Regions from separate parts of the Homo sapiens genome. Here regions 2, 3 and 4 are each reported to be linked to region 1. Evidence: microRNA targets listed by miRTarBase, many of them from high-throughput screens and not tested one by one. Region 1 holds a microRNA gene; each other region holds the end of a gene's coding sequence.

Region 1 (4,291 bases):
AGGCACCGCCACCCACCCGTGTTCCCTATCCAGGAGTGGACCCACATCACCCTATACTACTTCCATCGATGGGTGGGGGTGTCGCCTAACGGGCAAGTGTGCCGGGATCCTCAGGCTACTGGGAAGGAGGCCAGAGATTTGCTCTTTGGCCTCTGGTTGGGGCCAACATGTCCCCAGGACAAAGCTCTCTGTGGCCTCACAGAAACCACCTGCCCACCCCCTCTGCCTTGGACCCCCTCCCCACCCCACGACTGCCCGCTCCACCAGGCCCCCTTTGCCAGCTGGCACCCAGCAGTGGGTCTGGGAGGGGTGGCCAGGAGGTGAGCGCCCTCCTCCCAGGCCCCCAGTCCATCCACTGACACAGCAGCTCACGTTTCATTTTTATTGTGCTGGGGGTCAGGCAGCAGCCCCCACTGAGGCCCCACCCAGCCTCCGGGCTGCCTGGCCTGTGCCATGGGTCCCAGGCTCCAGCAGGGAGCTCGTACCTTCCCTCAGCTGAGGGCCCACCTGGCCTTGGGATGCCGTTGGGGTAGCCAGGGTGGGGGTAGCCAGGGGTGGATTCACAGAGAAGATCCCAGCCCATCCCATGCCAGGGTCTGGGGAGCCTCCCGAGGAAGGGGAGGAGGAAGAGGAGGAAGGCCCTGCCTGGCCTTCCGCTCAGTCACCCCGAGGTGGTTTCTGGACCCCCAGCATGTTGGGCAGGGGCATGGGGGCTGCAGGGCGGCGTGAGGGGCTCAGTCCAGCCTGGGGCGCTGGGCAGTCACGAGTCTTTCTTGCAGGAGCCTAGGGTTGGATGAGGCGAAGGTCAGAGATCACTGCTCCCCACAGCCTCCCCGCCCAGCTAGATCTGACTGGCCCCTTGGCCTTTGGTCGCCCCCGACCCCCAAGCCTGGGTAGCCCCTCTAGGCCCACTGGGCCCAGACCCGGGAGGAGGGCTCTGGAGGGTGGGGGCACTCACAGGACCCCAGCTGCTCCTCCAGGAAGGAAATCTGCTCGCTCAGGGAGTCGATGCGGCCGAGCTGCTGGAAGGAGTGCACCAGGAGGCTGCCGGGGTCCGGGAGCCCATGCTCCAGTGCCTGCGAGGCCAGGCTGTGCAGTGGGGCCAGCACCAGCTGCAGCTTCTGTGGGTGCAGAAGGGCAGTGACCCTGGGCCGGCCCCCGCCCTCTCTGCTCCACCGGGGTCTAGGGAGGACCCCTGGGAAGGGCTCCACAAGCCTCCAGCCCCCGCCTCCGCGGCAGGGCTCCAAGTGTCCACTAGAGGGGGCTGCCGTGGCAGAAAAGCTTGCCGCAGAGTGGGTGCCTGGGGCATCAGGCTGGCGGGGTGGTCCCAGCCTTGGGGTCCCTGGCAGGAGAACTAGGGGGACAGCTGGACCACTGGCCAGTGGGAAGACTGGCAAGAGCTCTTTGTCCTGGTGGGGACAAAGATGGGGGGGTGGGGAGGTCTCGTCTGGGTCCAGGCTCTGTGTATTGTCTGGGGGGCTGTCAAGCTTGGTTCCTCCGGCCCTGGGGGGTCCTGGTCAGTGTCCAGCTGCTTCTGCCCAGCATGGATCCAGGCCAGGGCCCCCTCGGCAGTCAGCAGCGAGGAAGCCACCTCCCCAGGGCCAGGACCTTTTCAGACCACCCCCAGCCATCCGTGGGTCGGGACCATGTCCCAGGAGACTACGGAGCCTGTACCCGGGCCTGGGCCTCTGCTGTTGTGAAGACCTGCCCCCTGCCGACGTCTCACCTCCTCCAGCAGGTCCACCCTGGACTGCCTGCCTCCCCCCCCGACGCCTCATCTCCTCCAGCAGGTCCACCCTGGACTGCCTGCCCCCCCGACGCCTCACCTCCTCCAGCAGGTCCACCCTGGACTGCCTGCCCCCCCGACGCCTCACCTCCTCCAGCAGGTCCACCCTGGACTGCCTGCCTACCCCCCCGATGCCTCACCTCCTCCAGCAGGTTCACCCTGGACTGCCTGCCCCTCCACACCTCACCTCCTCCAGCAGGTCCACCCTGGACTGCCTGCCCCCCCCCCCCCCCACCAATGCCTCACCTCCTCCAGCAGGTCCACCCTGGACTGCAGCCTCTGCACTTCTTCCTTCATTGCACTGTCCACTCCTGCGGGCAGAGCCAGGCGCTGGGTCACGGCCGGCCGGCTCCCCACCCACACCCCCAGGCTCCCTCCTGTCCCCAGGGAGAGGCAGAGCCAGAAGACTCAGGCCCAGGCCTCTGCCGCCCCCGCTGCCTGCCTGGCGCTGGCCAGAGGTCTCAGGGCTATGCCGCCTAAGTACGTCGGGGCGGGTGGCTCTGCGCAGAGGCTCAGGGTCCCGGCCACGCTGAGGGAGGTCAAGGCTGAGGTCTCAGCGGCGTTTTCGATGCGGTGCCGTGGACGGCGCATTATTACTCACGGTACGAGTTTGAAGTGTCACAGCGCGTACCAAAAGTAATAATGTCCCGTCGCCAGCGGAGGCGTGGCGTCTTCCAGAATGCTGCGCTGGATGCAGACAGGACCCCGGGACGGGGCACTTCTGCCTTCTTGGCTGATATGAGGCTCCGGGCAACCTGCCCCCAGTTCTCGGGAACCCACCTATCCTCCCTCCCCATCCTCCCTCCCTGGAGAGGGAGTCCCCACCGCCTTCCGCCCAGATTCCAGTGCCCCCCACCATGCCTAACAGCCACACGGCAATGTCCACTGCCTGCCCGCCTCCCCAGGCCAGGCACAGCCAGGGCTGTTTACCTGTCGGGTTGGGGGCCACCCTGGGGGGCCCTCCCTTGGGCACACAGAGTGTACCGTCTGCAGACAGGCTGTGCCCCTCCCAACACTGGCACCAGTAACTGCCGGCGGTGTTGACGCAGCGCTGGGGACAGCCGCCCCTCCTAGCACTGCATTCATCCACATCTGCAGGAAACGGGGTGTCAGGCGGCCATGCCTGCGGGAGGGGTCCTGCCCACACAGCTCCCTTCACAACCACCCACTCATGGGCCAGCAGTAACCCCAGGACATGCAAGGAGGTGCCCAGGACCCTTCCAGGGCCCCCCAGGGTAGAGCCAGCCTCACCTGACTGGCAAGTGTCACCCCGCCATCCTGCAGGGCAGCGGCAGCGGCCAGGCTGGACACAGCTCCCTCCGTTCCGGCATGGCGGCTGGCATATTGCTGTGGGCGGGGGAGGCTGGTCACCAGCTCAGTTGGGTCCCCAGCACCCTGTGGGGGCAGCTGCTAGGGAGTGGGTGCTCTGCGGCAAGGTGGTGCTTTGCTCGGGGTTCAAGAAAAGCAGCAGGAGCGTTGCTGGAAGATTGGGGAACAGTCGCCCTCCTAACACCGGGCGCCGAGGGACATAGCCCTCACCTGCTCCACAGGCCCCAGGAAGCCCGCTGGTCCTCTTCCAGCCGGGGCAGCACGCGTAGCGAGGCCTGGCAGGGGCCAGCCCAGGGCTGCGGCGGTAGGCGGTCCTATAGATGGTTCTGTGGGGTGGGTGGGACAGCTCAGAGGGGCATCCTACTCCCCCTTAGTCACCTGCTGGGCATCTAGAGTCCCCTCTCAGAGTGCACAGGGTCACCCCAGCATGCCCCCAAGGGTCTTCTCCTCAAGGGATGGCACTGAGGGGTCACTGCACAGCCGTTTCCCTGCCTGGGCCTTCCGGTGCTGGCCGGGACTCAAGCCACAGCAGGAAGGCCCAGCCACACTCCGCATGGAGCAGAGGCAGTGGCCAGGCCTGTGTGTGCCCCCACCTATCTGGTCTCCTACTGTGGGGGCATCCAGGCCCAGAGGAGAGGGTGTGCCCGGCCTACGGCGAGTCACGGCAGAGTGTGGGCCCTGGGCATCGGAGCCCTTCTTAAACCTCCAGAAGTCTGAATTCCCAGGCCCCTCCCCCAGCAGGGGGTGGAGCTCCCACACCCAGGAAGGAGGACTCTGAGACTTAGGGGTGTGTGCCCCTTGTGTGGGCATACAGGACATTTCAGGGTCTCATCTGTGCCCACTGGGGGCCGTCATGTGGAGGGGGGTGCCCAGTGGAGTGGGACCAGGGGAGTCAGGCACCATTCTGTGTATATGGGAACTTGCAGCCAGGGATGCCAGGGTAGGGAGGGGTTAGTCCCCCGGAAGTGGAGGGGTGCAGACAGGATGGGTGACCCCTCTAAACATGGGGATGCTCTTAGAGGTGCGGTCCTTTGAGACGTGTCGGGGCAAGAGCAAGGATTAGGACACTGGAGGTGATCGTGGAACCCCTTGGCTCCGGCCGCCCTGGGTCGCCCATCTCAGGCAGCCCTCTCATGGCTCTGGCCTCAGTTTCCCATCTTGGGTCCCAGGATTCAC
Region 2 (4,112 bases), not on the chromosome of region 1:
CTTCATTTCACTTACCAAATGTGGCAGTTTGTGTAATTAATATTCTGTTCTAGTTTTGCAAAGAATGTTTTAAGAAGTTACTTCTTCCAAATCATGTCAAAATATTATTTTTATAAGTATATCCAGTTAAGATTGTTAAGATAATGTTCCTTACTTAAAATTAGATGTTAGTCCACAGAACTAAATTCAAGTAAACGCTCAGCATCTTCAGGAAGCTTTGAGATACTCTGACCAGTTACTATAGGAACTGAAAATAAAAAGTCCCCCTCCCTCCCCTTTTTGTAAGCTTGTAACTGCTCAAGAAATTATTCTATGGGGGTCAAATGTACATTCCCCTTTCATGTGAAACAGTATTTGGCTGGTTAAAACCAAGGATGAGTTACATACTTTAAAAATTGTTTTAGAAAAAAAAAAAAAAAGGCAGGGGGATGGAAATTAGGATTCCAAATTATGTTATTATACTTCATGACAAAATCCCTGTGGCTTCCTATCCAAAGCCACCAGGTAGTTGGTAAATGGTCCATTTTCAAACTTCAGACCTTATATCCCACTTCTGTAGGTTAAAAATATTGACCTTACTATAGGCCACTGAATATAAACATAGTTTGACAGTAATAATGTAAAATTTCATAGTCATATTTCTATTTAAGGTTGGAAGTTAGAGACAAGCACGGTTTACAAAACCTCTCCATGCCTGCACCTGACTGCTTGAGCTTAGGGTTGTTTGTGACAATTCCTCTACAGTATCATCCGCATGTGTGAGTGTTCTGTCAATTCCCTACCCAGGTCAACCAGCAATGTTTCTCACCCTGACATGTACCCAACTAGATAAGCATGAAGTTGGGACAATCATAAAAAGTAGGGAACAGAGTTCTTTTAATGGTCCATGTATTTAATTACATGTTTAAATTAAAACTTGAGAATTAAAACCTAGAAACTTTCGAGTTCTCCCAGCAACAAAAAGGATGTATATAGCTAATCGTGAACAATTGCATGCCTGCTAATTCAATTGCCTAGAATTCCAGTCATTAGCCAAGCAGTCTTCCAAATTAAAACATCCGGTCTCCTTCAATTTTCCACTTAAACCAGAACACAGGAGAATAGATTTGACCGATCAACTTAGGATAAAATTACACACGAAAAGTGACTTACGGTATATGGATTAGTAGTTGTACAGTGTATTTTTAACAACCTATGCTGCCACGTAGTTTCATGATTCATGAGTTTCTAGGGAATTACCTCAACATTCTTGATGTAGATTGTGAAAATGGGTCGCATTTTTTAAATGTGCATTTAGTATCTTCTTAAGTGACTAGAATGCTTACACATTTTCCACTCGAGTGATTTAAGGCATTCTAATAATTTCATAAACTCCGAATAGAATTGATATTAAAGATGCCAGGTATGATACATATTTAGAATCTATACACTACATAATCACAATAAAAAATACACACAAGAAATTCTCAGTTCATATAATTTATTGCAGTTAGCACACAGTTTAAAAATTCACCAACACACCAATAGTACAAAACTAAACAGCATTATAAGTTATTCCCCCTCAGGAAAATAAAACATACTATGATTGTCAAAGCTAGATGTCAGTCTAAGTTTTAGAACAAAGGAAGAATGTGAAACTAAGAAAAGGAAAAAGCAATCACTCACAATGACCACAAAAAGAAAATCCAAAAGAAAGTCCGTTTTCTCACAGACATTGATTGTCTTCTCTAAATTAATAAAAATTATTTTAACATAAACTGTATTTTAAAAAAACTAGAAACTCTTCAAGTAACTAAAGATAATGCTCCAAGGCCATTTTCACAGCTTTTTTTGTTTGTTTGTTTGCTTTAAATGCCATTACAGCCAAATTAACACACATTTAACCAAATATTTCCAAAACAGTCCAGCAACACACAATGGAGTTTTCCATTCAGTATCTTAAGCACAAAAATAGGCTATGTTTACAGTAGTTAAGGCGATCAAATTTTAAACAAAAGCAATTAAAAAAAAAAGGGAAAAACAGCAAACGTTTTCCATGCTACTCCCATAGACCTTATTTGTAAGTGCAAGACAGGAAAACAAACACTGTGCAAAATGCTTTTGCCTTGCGTGCTGGTCATTAAAACCACACGTTAGGCTGCAGCCTCTGCTGCCGCAATCCACATAGTCTACTAACCCCCTTCCCCATGTCAATCAAGGCAGTCCAGTCCTTTCAGCCTGGGGCTTTTTCAGTCCATAGAATCTTTTCATGAGTTGGGGGTGGAGGGTGGTGGTGGGGGGGGAGAGTAAGGGAGGGAGGGTAAGGAGGAAGGGGAGAAAAAGAAAAAGGGAGCAAACAAAAAAAAAGAGAGAACGACCTATTGTCAACTTGTGCAGTAGTTATTCTAAGAACGCTCAACTGGGTAAATGTGTACACCTAAACTCTGAGCTGGCATGGGTTTTGTGCAATTAGAAGTTTGTTATAAATGCACACTGCACATGCAAATCTTTAAGCTGTTTGTAAACATTTATATTTTCCTTGTTATGTAGCGAAGTTATCAATTTGCAGCTTAAGTTTTTATTCAGCTTAACAGTTTCAACTTAAAGACAGTGGGAAAGTCAATTTAAATTATATAAAATAAAAATAAAAACAGTGCATTTACGTTCTTCATAACACCAGTTTTTTTTTCCAAATGGTGTTATTTTTCTAAGGAAATTAAATAATTTTAAACTCACTCGTTAAAGTTATACAATGCAAACAAAGACAAAAAATATATTGAAACTCATGCATTTCTGTAGCGTTAATATTTACTTTTCAAGACTCAACTAAGAGCATCAACACAACCTGTCAAGTTCTTTGACACCCCCCCAGCCCATGTAATCAATTACAGTATACAATAACAGTAATTCACATTTTTAAACACACAGTTCAACACTGCTGAAGCTGCAATATCCTTTTTCATCCCAAGCAAACCTTCATAAGACAGTGTCCCAGTGATCCCAGTGTACTTTCAGCATTTCTCTCACTGGGAACTGTCAGAAAACCAGAAGTTGCCACAGAAAGTTTTAAGTCAACTGCTTGTTTAAAAATAGATAATCCAGCATTTCAGAAATTTTCCATTTGGGTCTAAAAGCATTCAGGTTTCCAACAGCCAGAAAAAATTCATGCAATTTGAGACATATAAAGAGGCTAATAAAACTGGAGGGAATTTCTACTTAAAAAAAAAAACAAAAAACAAAAAAACTTTGTTGGGGGGGAAAAAAGAGCTCAAAAGACAATGCAGTGTTGACAAAATTAAGCCATATGAAAGCATTTTGTGACAGGACGATTTGTTTAAAAGGTTCTTATTGGCTTACTTCCCCTATCCCCTCAAAGGAAAAACACCTCTCTATTCTGACTTGCTCTAAAGTTTCTTTTATCAGAATGCTAAATTAGTGAGATTCTCATGCTATTCTAAAGTGCAAAAACAAGTTAATATCCCAACTTTTTATTTCCAGGAAACAAGACTGCTTTTAGACCGTACCACAACTATATAGAGATCTATTTATATATATGTATATATATATATATTATTTATATATATATAAAATTATTTCCAAAGTTCTTGAGAGCTATCTTCTAAGGTCCAGTCTCTGACAGTAGGCAAGCTCAGTGCTTCGCTTTTGACCGACAAGGAGTTCACCAACTCACAGTGGAACTTGCGAATGTGTCTGTACAGGTCCCCGGACTGCGTGAACCTGCGCTCGCACCACTTGCAGGCGTGCGGCTTCTCGCGGGTGTGCACCACGGCATGGCGGCTCAGGTTGTGCGAGTACTGGAAGCTCTTGCCGCACTGGGTGCATGTGTAGGGCTTCTCCCCCGAGTGAGTCCTCTCGTGGCGCTTGAGGGTGTACATGCAAGAGAAAGTCTTCCCACACAGCGAGCACGTGGGCACGTTGACATCGGCGGCGGGCTTGCTGCGGATGCCGTCCTGCTCGCGGAAGTGCGTGCTCAGGTGGATCTGCAGGATGTGGGGGCTGGGGAAGACCTTGTTGCACAGGGGGCACATGAAGATCTGGCCCGCGGGGCTCAGGATGTTGGAGACGTAGGGGAGCAGACTGCTCTCCATGCCTCCCTCCACCTGGACACGCTC
Region 3 (4,263 bases), not on the chromosome of region 1:
AGGCAGCAGAGGAAACCACCCCCACCCACTCCCTCGCGGTGGCCTCGCTGCGGGCTCAGCACATCTGGGCCACAGGAGCTGTCGGCCCCAGTCTGTGGGGTAGGGAGACGTGGTCAGATCCCCAACCCTTCCCGGAAAGGGGAGGCGTGATGGCCTTTGGGGGAAGGCAGGAGGGGAGGGCTGGGCACTGGGGCACCTGTGGCTGCAGCCAGCCCTCCAAGGGGCCACCAGTTCAGGGCAGAGAAGGCCCCTCCGATGACTTCTGAATAAGCCTGTTCCCTGGGGCAGCCCCAGCTCTTTCTGGGCCTCCTCTGCCCCGACCCTTTTGGGAGCTGGGTGACAGCTGCTCCTACAAAGCCAGGGACAGCTGGGTGGCTGGGGACAGCTGGGTGGGTTAGCGTCTCCCTGCTTCCCTGGCTGCCTAGGGAACCCCCCCCAAGCCAACTCTGGGCAGCTGCTGCTTCACCTATAGATGTGTGCCTGAGCGTGTCATTGTCTGGAGTGGGCTTCAAAGCTGGGACATGGAGGGGCTCAAGCCCATCCCATTCCCACCAGAATGTCCCCTCCACATCTCAGTGGATTGACGCACCTGGGGAAAGGGCCTCTCCCCTCAGCCAAAACAAAACTAGGCCAAGTGGGAAAGAAATTAGGCAGCTTTTTATCTTGGCTCCCAACTCTTGGCACGGGGGATGTCTCAGGGCTCCTGAGAACTGGAGAAAGGGACAGTGAGACAGAAGCAGATTTGAGTGGAGTGAAGTGACTGTCCACCGGCACCTGCCCCCAGGCATCCTGCACCCTGGGCTGGAGGGGCACTGTGCTCCAGTCATTTCCCCACTCCCTTTAGCCCCAAACAGGTGCACGGGGAGGGAAGGGGTAGGCCAGCTGTTGTCATACTGCTCCTGGCTCCCTGCCACACTGGGGAGGGGAACAATGAAGCAAGGGTCCACCACCCCACCCGAGTCATCCTCTACTCCCTCAGGGCAGGAAGGCGGAGGCAGTTAGCAAGACCAAGGCTATGGTTTGGTCTGGCCAGCCCCAAAGTCTTTATTTTTCTTTTTTTTCTTTGAGACAGGATCTTGCTCTGTTGCCCAGGTTGGAGTGCAGTGGCAAGATCTCAGCTCACTGCAACCTCCACCTCCCAGCCTCAATCAAGCAATCCTCCCACTTCAGCCTCCAGAGTAGCTAGGACCACAGGCCCGTGGCACCACGCCTGGCTAATTTTTCGTTTTAGTAGAGATGGGGTTTCACCATGTGGCCCAGGCTGGTTTTGAACTCCTGAACTCAAGTGATCCATCCACCTTCAAACTGCTGGGATTCCAGGCATGAGCCAACGTGCTCGGCAAGCCTTTATTTTTCTGAGGGGAGGGGTGGCTAGGGGTCAGTGAGGCTTGGACCACTGGCATGGGACTTTTTTTTTTTTTTTTTGAGATGGAGTCTGGCTCTGTCACCCAGGCTGCAGTGCAGTGGCACGATCTCGGCTCACTGCAACCTCTGCCTCCCAGGTTCAAGCGATTCTCCTGCCTCAGCCTCCTGAGTAGCTGGGACTACAGGCGCCCACCACCATGCCGGCTAATTTTTGTATTTTTAATAGAGATGAAATTTCACCACGTTGACCAGGCTGGTCTCGAACTCCCGACCTCAGGTGATCCGCCCATCTCAGCCTCCCAAAGTGCTGGGATTACAGGCATGAGCCACCGCGCCTGGCAGGAATGGGACTTTACAAGGCTGTCTGCCTTGTCCTGGGCTTCCTGGGGTGGGTGGCATTCAGGCCCGGATTCTGCCCAAACAAGAAGAAAGATAACTAGGCACCCAGCAGATTACAGAAGTGCATGGGCTGCGGACTTACAGCTCTGTGCAGAGCATCAGGCAACAACCGGAGCCTTTTTGAAGGTGAGGCCCCTCTCCAGAGAAGGGCCTTGGGGGTGTCCCAGCTTCCTCTCCCCGCAGTGGCCTCTGTGACAAGCAGCAGGGAGGACCCTGACCACCACAATGGCAGCACTTCTCTAAACCCAGGATATGGGAGAATAGAGTTAAAAATGCAAATTCCTGGGCTCTCAGAGATTCCCGATGAGTCTAAGCTAGGCCTCAGGAATCAGCACCCTTACCCTTTTTTTTTTTTTTTTTTTGAGACAGGGTCTTGCTCTGTTGTTTTGTTGCACAGGCTGGAGTGCAGTGACTTGATCTAGACCTACTGCAACCTCTGCCTCCCAGGCTCAAGCAGTTCTCCCACCTCAGTCCCAGAGTAGCTGGGACCACAGGTGTGGTGTGCCCCACCACGCCCAACTAATTCTTGTATTTTTTGTAGAAACAGGGTTCCGACATGTTGCCCAGGCTGGTCTCAAACCCCTGAGCTCAGGCAATTTGCCTTGGCCTCCCAAAATGTCAGGATTACAGGCGTGAGCCACAGCAAGGAATCGGCCCTTTTAACAAGCTCCCAAGACATGCTTGAGACTTTGAGAAGCTCTGCCGAAGTGGATGGGGGCAGGATGTCTTTTTCATCTTGCCACCCCACCTCCACCCCTCCCAAGGCCAAAGCCCCAAGTCCAAAGGAAGTATGGACCTGAGTGGTCCCCTCTCCCTATGGGGTCCAAGGCCCAGCTAGATTACATTCTGTCTCTATGCCTGCAGCCCTGCACAGTGCCTGGCACGTAGTGTGCACTCAAATATTTGTGGCCTGAAGGAGGTAAACTTTGCAAGACTCATAGAAAGGTGTTCCTCCTTCGTCCTCAGCTAAGAGCACATTGGCAGAACCTCAAAGAGATGCCGGGGCCCAGGTGGCATGGGGCTGGGCCTGGGAGGCCCTGGGCAAATATTTGTCAAATGAACCCAAGGCCAAGAGCAGACGGAGTCAGTGCCCGACGAACTGACATTCACAGGCCTGGAACCAGCTGGACCCAGGGGAGCAAAATCAAGGCAAGGAGGGCAGGGGCCCCTCCCCACACCGACGCCTGAAGATCCCAGGCCTGGGGGGGATAGGGGAACAGGCGAGGCAGGGAGTGGGACTGCGCCATCATGTTTATTAGAAGGTTGGATTTTGGTGTGTGCTCTAGACAGATACAGAATAAATACCTGCGCCTTGAGAACAGGAAGTCCACGATTCATACAAAGTGCTCACTACAGGAAGTTGCTGTGTCAAAATCCAGGCAAGGACCCAACTCCGGGCAGCCCCTCCTCCCTGCTGACCTCAACAAGGGCTGTGCTATTGTTTTTTATTTTATTATTTTATTTCTCTTTATTATTATTAATATTATTATTATTTGCTTTTGCTGTGGTCACTATCATTGGCAAAGTTCCTTTTCCCCTTTCCTGGACATAGGGGTCCTGTCTTTAAAAGATTCCACTCTGAGGCTGAAGGTGCCAAAAGCTGCTTGAGAAGTGGCCTTTGAACTCCGTCTGGGAAGATGGTGAGGAGAAGGAAGCAGGAGAAATCATTCTTGGTTTAAAAAAATTTAAAAAAACAAAAACAAAAGTCGCACAATCTAAAGGTCATTCCTTACTCGATCAGTGATCAAACTGCCCAAAAGGAAAACAAGAGGAGAAACAAGCCCGGGGCCCTGGGCGTTCCTCCCGGGTGGGGTAAGAAGGGTGGGACCCCCAAGCTTTCAGGGAAGCCGAGGTTCCTTCCAGCCACGGGGGTGTGAAGGGGAAGGAGTAGAGGAAAAAAGGAGAAACAGAGAGAGAGCTCAGCGCCTCGACACAGACACTTTCCCATCTCCAGGGCCACCTGCCGTCCTGGCCCAGGCCAGCTCCCACTGTCACCTCTGCGTCCAGGAGATTCATAATAAAAAAAAATCAAAAACAAAGCCAAAACCAAAACAAAATCCAAAAGGAAAAGACCTGGGGCAATGGAATGAGGAAGAGGGGAGGCGAGGAAGGTAGAAGGGCAGGTCTCTGGATGCATAACTCCCGAGCCCGGGGGCTGGGGAGGAAGATTCCCCAGCGCCCCGCCGCCTGCGTGGCGTTAGCTCGTCACGTAGTGTTTGGTGGACGGCTGCCCATACACCCTGTAGAAATCCTGGTGGCCGGGCTGCTGGGAGGCGTCAAGCCAGTCTCTGACCGCCAGGCTGGGAAGGGACTGGGGGACGGAGGGTGTGGGCGGGAGCGGGTGTGAGTACTCCTGCGAGGGCACTGTCCAGGGAAAGTGGCCGGAGCGGGGGTAGGGCTGGTGGCCGCCATGGTTGGCCACGGAAGAACAGTAACAGTTGTCCACAGAACAGACGAGAATCTTGCGGCCGCCATACTGGGGGAGCATGGGCTGCTGGG
Region 4 (4,291 bases), not on the chromosome of region 1:
TGATAACTGTACAAAAGCATGTTGTTAGATCAAAGTAAAACCAACCCTTTTACTAGAAAATCAGCTCAGAGGCCGGGCGTGGTGGCTTACAACTTGTAATCCCAGCACTTTGAGAGGCCGAGGCAGGCGGATCACTTGAGGTCAGGAGTTCGAGATCAGCCTGGCCAACATGGTGAAACCCTGCCTCTACTGAAAATATTAAAAAAAAAAAAATTAGCTGGGCGTGGTGGCACATGCCTGTAATCTCAGCTACTCAGGAGGCTGAGACAGGAGAATCGCTTGAACCTGGGAGGCGGAGGTTGCCGTGAGCAAAGATCGCTCCATTGCACTCCAGCCTGGGCAGCAAGAGCGAGACTCTGTCTCAAAAAAGAAAAAAGAAAAGAAAAGAAAAGAAAATCAGCTCAGAGAGTTAATGGGTTGTTAATGTTTTCTTTATAGATAAAGTACAGCACTAATCCTAATCCAATAAATGATAGTGAAACAAACAAAAAATTTTTTTACAATGACATCCCTCTCTCAATAATTATACAGACTGTGAGTTCCTGCTTTTTATCTTATAGAGTTTACAAATTTGAGCTAAAGTTTGTCAAGTACTAAGAGAATCTTGACAAAGCAAGCTAAAACTGTCGATGCCTGTTTCTCAGATTTTGCTGAACACTGCATACTTTATTTTTGAGCTGTGAGGAAACATTCTTGTAATCTGACTAAAAACCCCTTTCCTTTCAGAGCAAAATGGAGCCATCTACCTTCCAACACCAGATCGATGATTGCAGATCCCTCTTTTCCAGTTCTCCTTCCTCTAGGAGCCATGTTATCCTCTGTCCCCCATAGAGTCAAGCCTAGTGCTTGAAGGTCCTGACGACACCCACAACATACATGAGAGTAATGGGATTGAGCATTTATGGCAGCAACAGAGGAGCCACAAAATGTTCTTTGTTCTTTGGCTCCAAAAAGACTGTCAGCTTTCAGTCTCTTTTGATGGACTGTTTTATCAGAGTTGACTTTAAATACAGCTTGTCTCATGACACAACGCTTCCCTACATTCTATTTGTCAATGATGATTTGCAACTAGTTGGAGATTCTCAGAGCAGGAAGGAATCTTTTCAACCAGAGCAGGAACTGTCTTCTGCAATGCCTTGGACTTGAGCCTCCAGCCTCCACTTGAACACCATGTGAAGGGAACCTCAGTACTTCATAAAATGGCCTTTCTCATTCATCTTTCATGGGAACATTTATTGTACAAGCGCTTTGAATATCATGGGCACCATGACTGTGACCCTACAGGTAGGATTGGATCACTCCATGAGAGTAGCCGGCAGGTTTCTACAATGGCCTGGGAATGGACTGATTATTTTTATACATTTTCTGGCCTGAGAGAAAGCCAAAGTCCCCTGCTGTTCACAGCAACCCTGCCTGGGAGCTTGGAATCTTGGTAATCTGCCCGGTTGGATCTATGGAGGTAGTCTCACCCTTTTTGTCTTTTGTGGGAAATTAAGAGAAATAATTATCAGACATATCATCACCTCCAGTGGAACTACAGAGACCTGGACCCAGCTGCACTATTTTAATGTAAAAATAACAGTATGGCCAGGTGCAGTGGCTCACGCCTGTAATCCCATCACTTTGAGCAGCCAAGGCGGGCGGATCACGAGGTCAGGAGATTAAGACCATCCTGGCCAATATGGTGAAACCCTGTCTCTACTAAAATACAAAAAATTAGCTGGGCATGGTGTTGCGTGCCTGTAGTCCCAGCTACTTGGGAGGCTGAGACAGGGGAATTGCTTGAACCCGGGAGGCAGAGATTGCAGTGAGCCGAGATCACGCCACTGCACTCCAGCCTGGCGACAGAGTGAGACTCTATCTCAAAATAATAATAATAATAATAATAATAATAATAATAATAATAACAGTATATTTGGTGTCAGGAGAGGGCTCAATTCTCATTTCTGCCTTTCCTGTGCTGGCTCATGGTAGCTGGGCATGACTTGCCTTCCTACATAGGTTGTCTTCATACATATGCACTGGGAATCAATAAAAGCCCATGGTGAGAATGAACATCCCCTTAATGTTCCTTACTATCCCCAACCCCTGAGGCCTCACCTACTGCCCTGCCATGTGGAGCTACTTGCCCTGGGGCTGCCAGTCACACATTCCTCGGTCCTACTTCTCTGACCCCGTTTGACTCTGCACCTGAGCCCTAATGCTTACTTCAGTGACCTGAACTTTGACAAGTGGCTTTTGTCCTGCACCTCAGGTTTGACCTCTGCTCTCCCTTGACCTTGACTGTGACATTTGACCTTTGGCTTTAATCATTACAGCCTCAGATAAAGGTACCTTCAGCCCGGGCACAGTGGCTCACGCCTGTAATCCTAGCACTTTGGGAGGCTGAGGCAGGCGGATTCCCTGAGCTCAGGAGTTCAAGACCAGCCTGGGCAACACGGTGAAACCCTGTCTCTACTAAAATACAAATAATTAGCTGGGCATGGTGGCATGTGCCTATAGTCCCAGCTACTTGGGAGGCTAAGGCAGGAGAATCACTTGAATCTATAAGGCAGAGGTGGCAGTGAGCCGAGATCACACCACTGCACTCCAGCCTGGGCAACGGAGCAAGACTCTGTCTCCAAAAAAAAAAAGAAAGATACCCTCAGTGTGCCAGGCCTCTAAGAGCTCACCTGCCAGGCTTCCTCCTTGCTCCACTGTCCCATGTAATTCCATATATGAAGCTACCACTGTACATCTCTCTTTTCCGGTGCCTGTTGAGTTGCATAGAAGCACAGTTGTGTTTATTTTGTTTTTAGGGTTGCCATGGGCAATTTCCGTGCCACTTTTAAGCAGTGTTGCACTGTGAAGAGAATGTAGGCAAGTTTATTTCTGGAATGGTTTCTTCTTACAATCAGAATAGTTAGGATGTAATATATTTTTGGGTGGGCATTTAAAGTGAAAAGGTACATATTTACATAGACACAGGTGATAATGTATCTATGTAAATGCCTTTTGATTCTGCAACTGCAGGATACTCTCATCAAAGACACAGATAAAAAGCCTCTGTGTTTCCAAGGCCTTGCCCTACACCTAACACATAATATGTCCAAATGGATGAAGAGGAGGCAAGGACAAGGATGTGATGACAAAACATTCTGTTATGCACTTGTAGCATTTATGTTTCTTCCTGGGGGATTTTATAATACTAAAAGAATCATAATATAAAGAGATGATTAAAAAAAAAATACTGCCGGGCACGGTGGCTCATGCCTGTAATCCCAGCATTTTGGGAGGCCGAGGTGGGCAGATCACCTGAGGTCGGGAGTTCGAGACCAGCCTGACCAACATGGAGAAACCCTGTCTCTACCAAACATACAAAATTAGCCGGGGATGGTGGCGCATGCCTATAATCCCAGCTACTCGGGAGTCTGAGGCAGAAGAACCGCTTGAACCCGGGAGGCAGAGGTTGTGGTGAGCCGAGATCGCGCCATCGCACTCTAGCCTGGGCAACAAGAGTGAAACTCCATCTCAAAAAAATAAAAATAAAATAAGTAAGTAATACCTAAAATTCTGCAACCTTCATTTTACTATAGATGGTTGAAGATTATATTACTTCTTAATTGTTTTAGCCTTGTTATTGCTTCATTACTTCATGGTTGTTGAGTACAGATGCTCAGTAATCATAACCTATGAAATATTTGACACCATGATCTAAACATTAAAAACAAATAACTGTGCTATTGCCACAGCTATGTTTTGGCTTTGAATTTTCTTTACTGAATATTTTGGATCAAGAACACTAGATGAGAAACCTGTTCAACTCTGTTCTTTTTTTTTTTTTTAACTCCACTGTATTTATTACCTGTTTTTGTTTTTTTTGTTTGTTTGTTTTTGATGTGCATATAGACCAAGATGTGGTAAATTTAAATGGCAGATGTTTTTGATGTGGTACATTTAAGGGAGAGAAAGCAGTTTAAAGAGCAGGGTGAAAAATCCAACAAGACTCCATCGAGAGTTTCTGAGCTCTCCCATCAGGGGCCAGTCCTCCTTTCCTCTCTCCTCTTACTCCCATGATTTCCAAGTTGTGATCCTTTCCTTATTTCTGAGGAATGACTTGGTTTCTCCTCTTCTTTTTTTGGCCTGAGAGAAGATGTTTTTGCACTTGTAGCTATGAGGAACAGATTGTCCACTAGGGAGGCCAGCTGATCATTTTCTGCCAGAGTCACACAGAGCAGTCACACCTTATTTTGAAAACCACTGTCTGGGGTCTTTGTCCTCACATATGCAGGTCTAGTGTCCCCACAAAGTG

What was found. The annotated mature microRNA hsa-miR-126-5p reads CAUUAUUACUUUUGGUACGCG and lies in region 1 at 2,411-2,431, opposite strand. An mRNA with a match to its seed (bases 2 to 7 or 8) in the 3' UTR can be bound and repressed. Matches are read on the target gene's strand: a 7mer-m8 pairs with bases 2 to 8, a 7mer-A1 pairs with bases 2 to 7 and ends in A, and an 8mer does both.
Region 2: miRTarBase lists ZBTB18 as a target of hsa-miR-126-5p. Seed matches in the 3' UTR shown: 7mer-A1 at 3,548-3,554.
Region 3: the mRNA of TRIM8 is a reported target of hsa-miR-126-5p. Seed matches in the 3' UTR shown: 7mer-A1 at 3,252-3,258, 8mer at 3,249-3,256, 8mer at 3,246-3,253, 8mer at 3,237-3,244, 8mer at 3,234-3,241 and 7mer-A1 at 3,216-3,222.
Region 4: the mRNA of MR1 is a reported target of hsa-miR-126-5p. Seed matches in the 3' UTR shown: 7mer-A1 at 1,867-1,873, 8mer at 1,869-1,876, 8mer at 1,872-1,879, 8mer at 1,875-1,882, 8mer at 1,878-1,885, 8mer at 1,881-1,888 and 6 more.

What each region holds. Positions count from the first base shown.
Region 1 is chr9:136,668,756-136,673,046 of GRCh38, reverse strand. MIR126 (microRNA 126) reads right to left here and starts at 2,445; the gene lies at 2,361-2,445. It overlaps EGFL7 (EGF like domain multiple 7), which reads right to left. Exons shown (of 11, transcript NM_016215.5): 6 at 3,326-3,441; 7 at 3,038-3,133; 8 at 2,717-2,878; 9 at 2,033-2,097; 10 at 959-1,121; 11 at 369-783. The coding sequence ends at 761. RefSeq lists enhancers at 2,613-3,112, 3,113-3,614.
Region 2 is chr1:244,054,828-244,058,939 of GRCh38, reverse strand. It overlaps ZBTB18 (zinc finger and BTB domain containing 18), which reads right to left. Exons shown (of 2, transcript NM_205768.3): 2 at 1,464-4,112. The coding sequence ends at 3,570. Among named protein-coding and RNA genes, the nearest start is that of ZBTB18, 5.6 kb to the right of the region's middle.
Region 3 is chr10:102,657,053-102,661,315 of GRCh38, reverse strand. It overlaps TRIM8 (tripartite motif containing 8), which reads right to left. Exons shown (of 6, transcript NM_030912.3): 6 at 2,998-4,263. The coding sequence ends at 3,962. Among named protein-coding and RNA genes, the nearest start is that of TRIM8, 15 kb to the right of the region's middle. RefSeq lists a silencer at 1-48.
Region 4 is chr1:181,054,499-181,058,789 of GRCh38, forward strand. It overlaps MR1 (major histocompatibility complex, class I-related), which reads left to right. Exons shown (of 6, transcript NM_001385161.1): 6 at 727-4,291. The coding sequence ends at 767. Among named protein-coding and RNA genes, the nearest start is that of MR1, 23 kb to the left of the region's middle.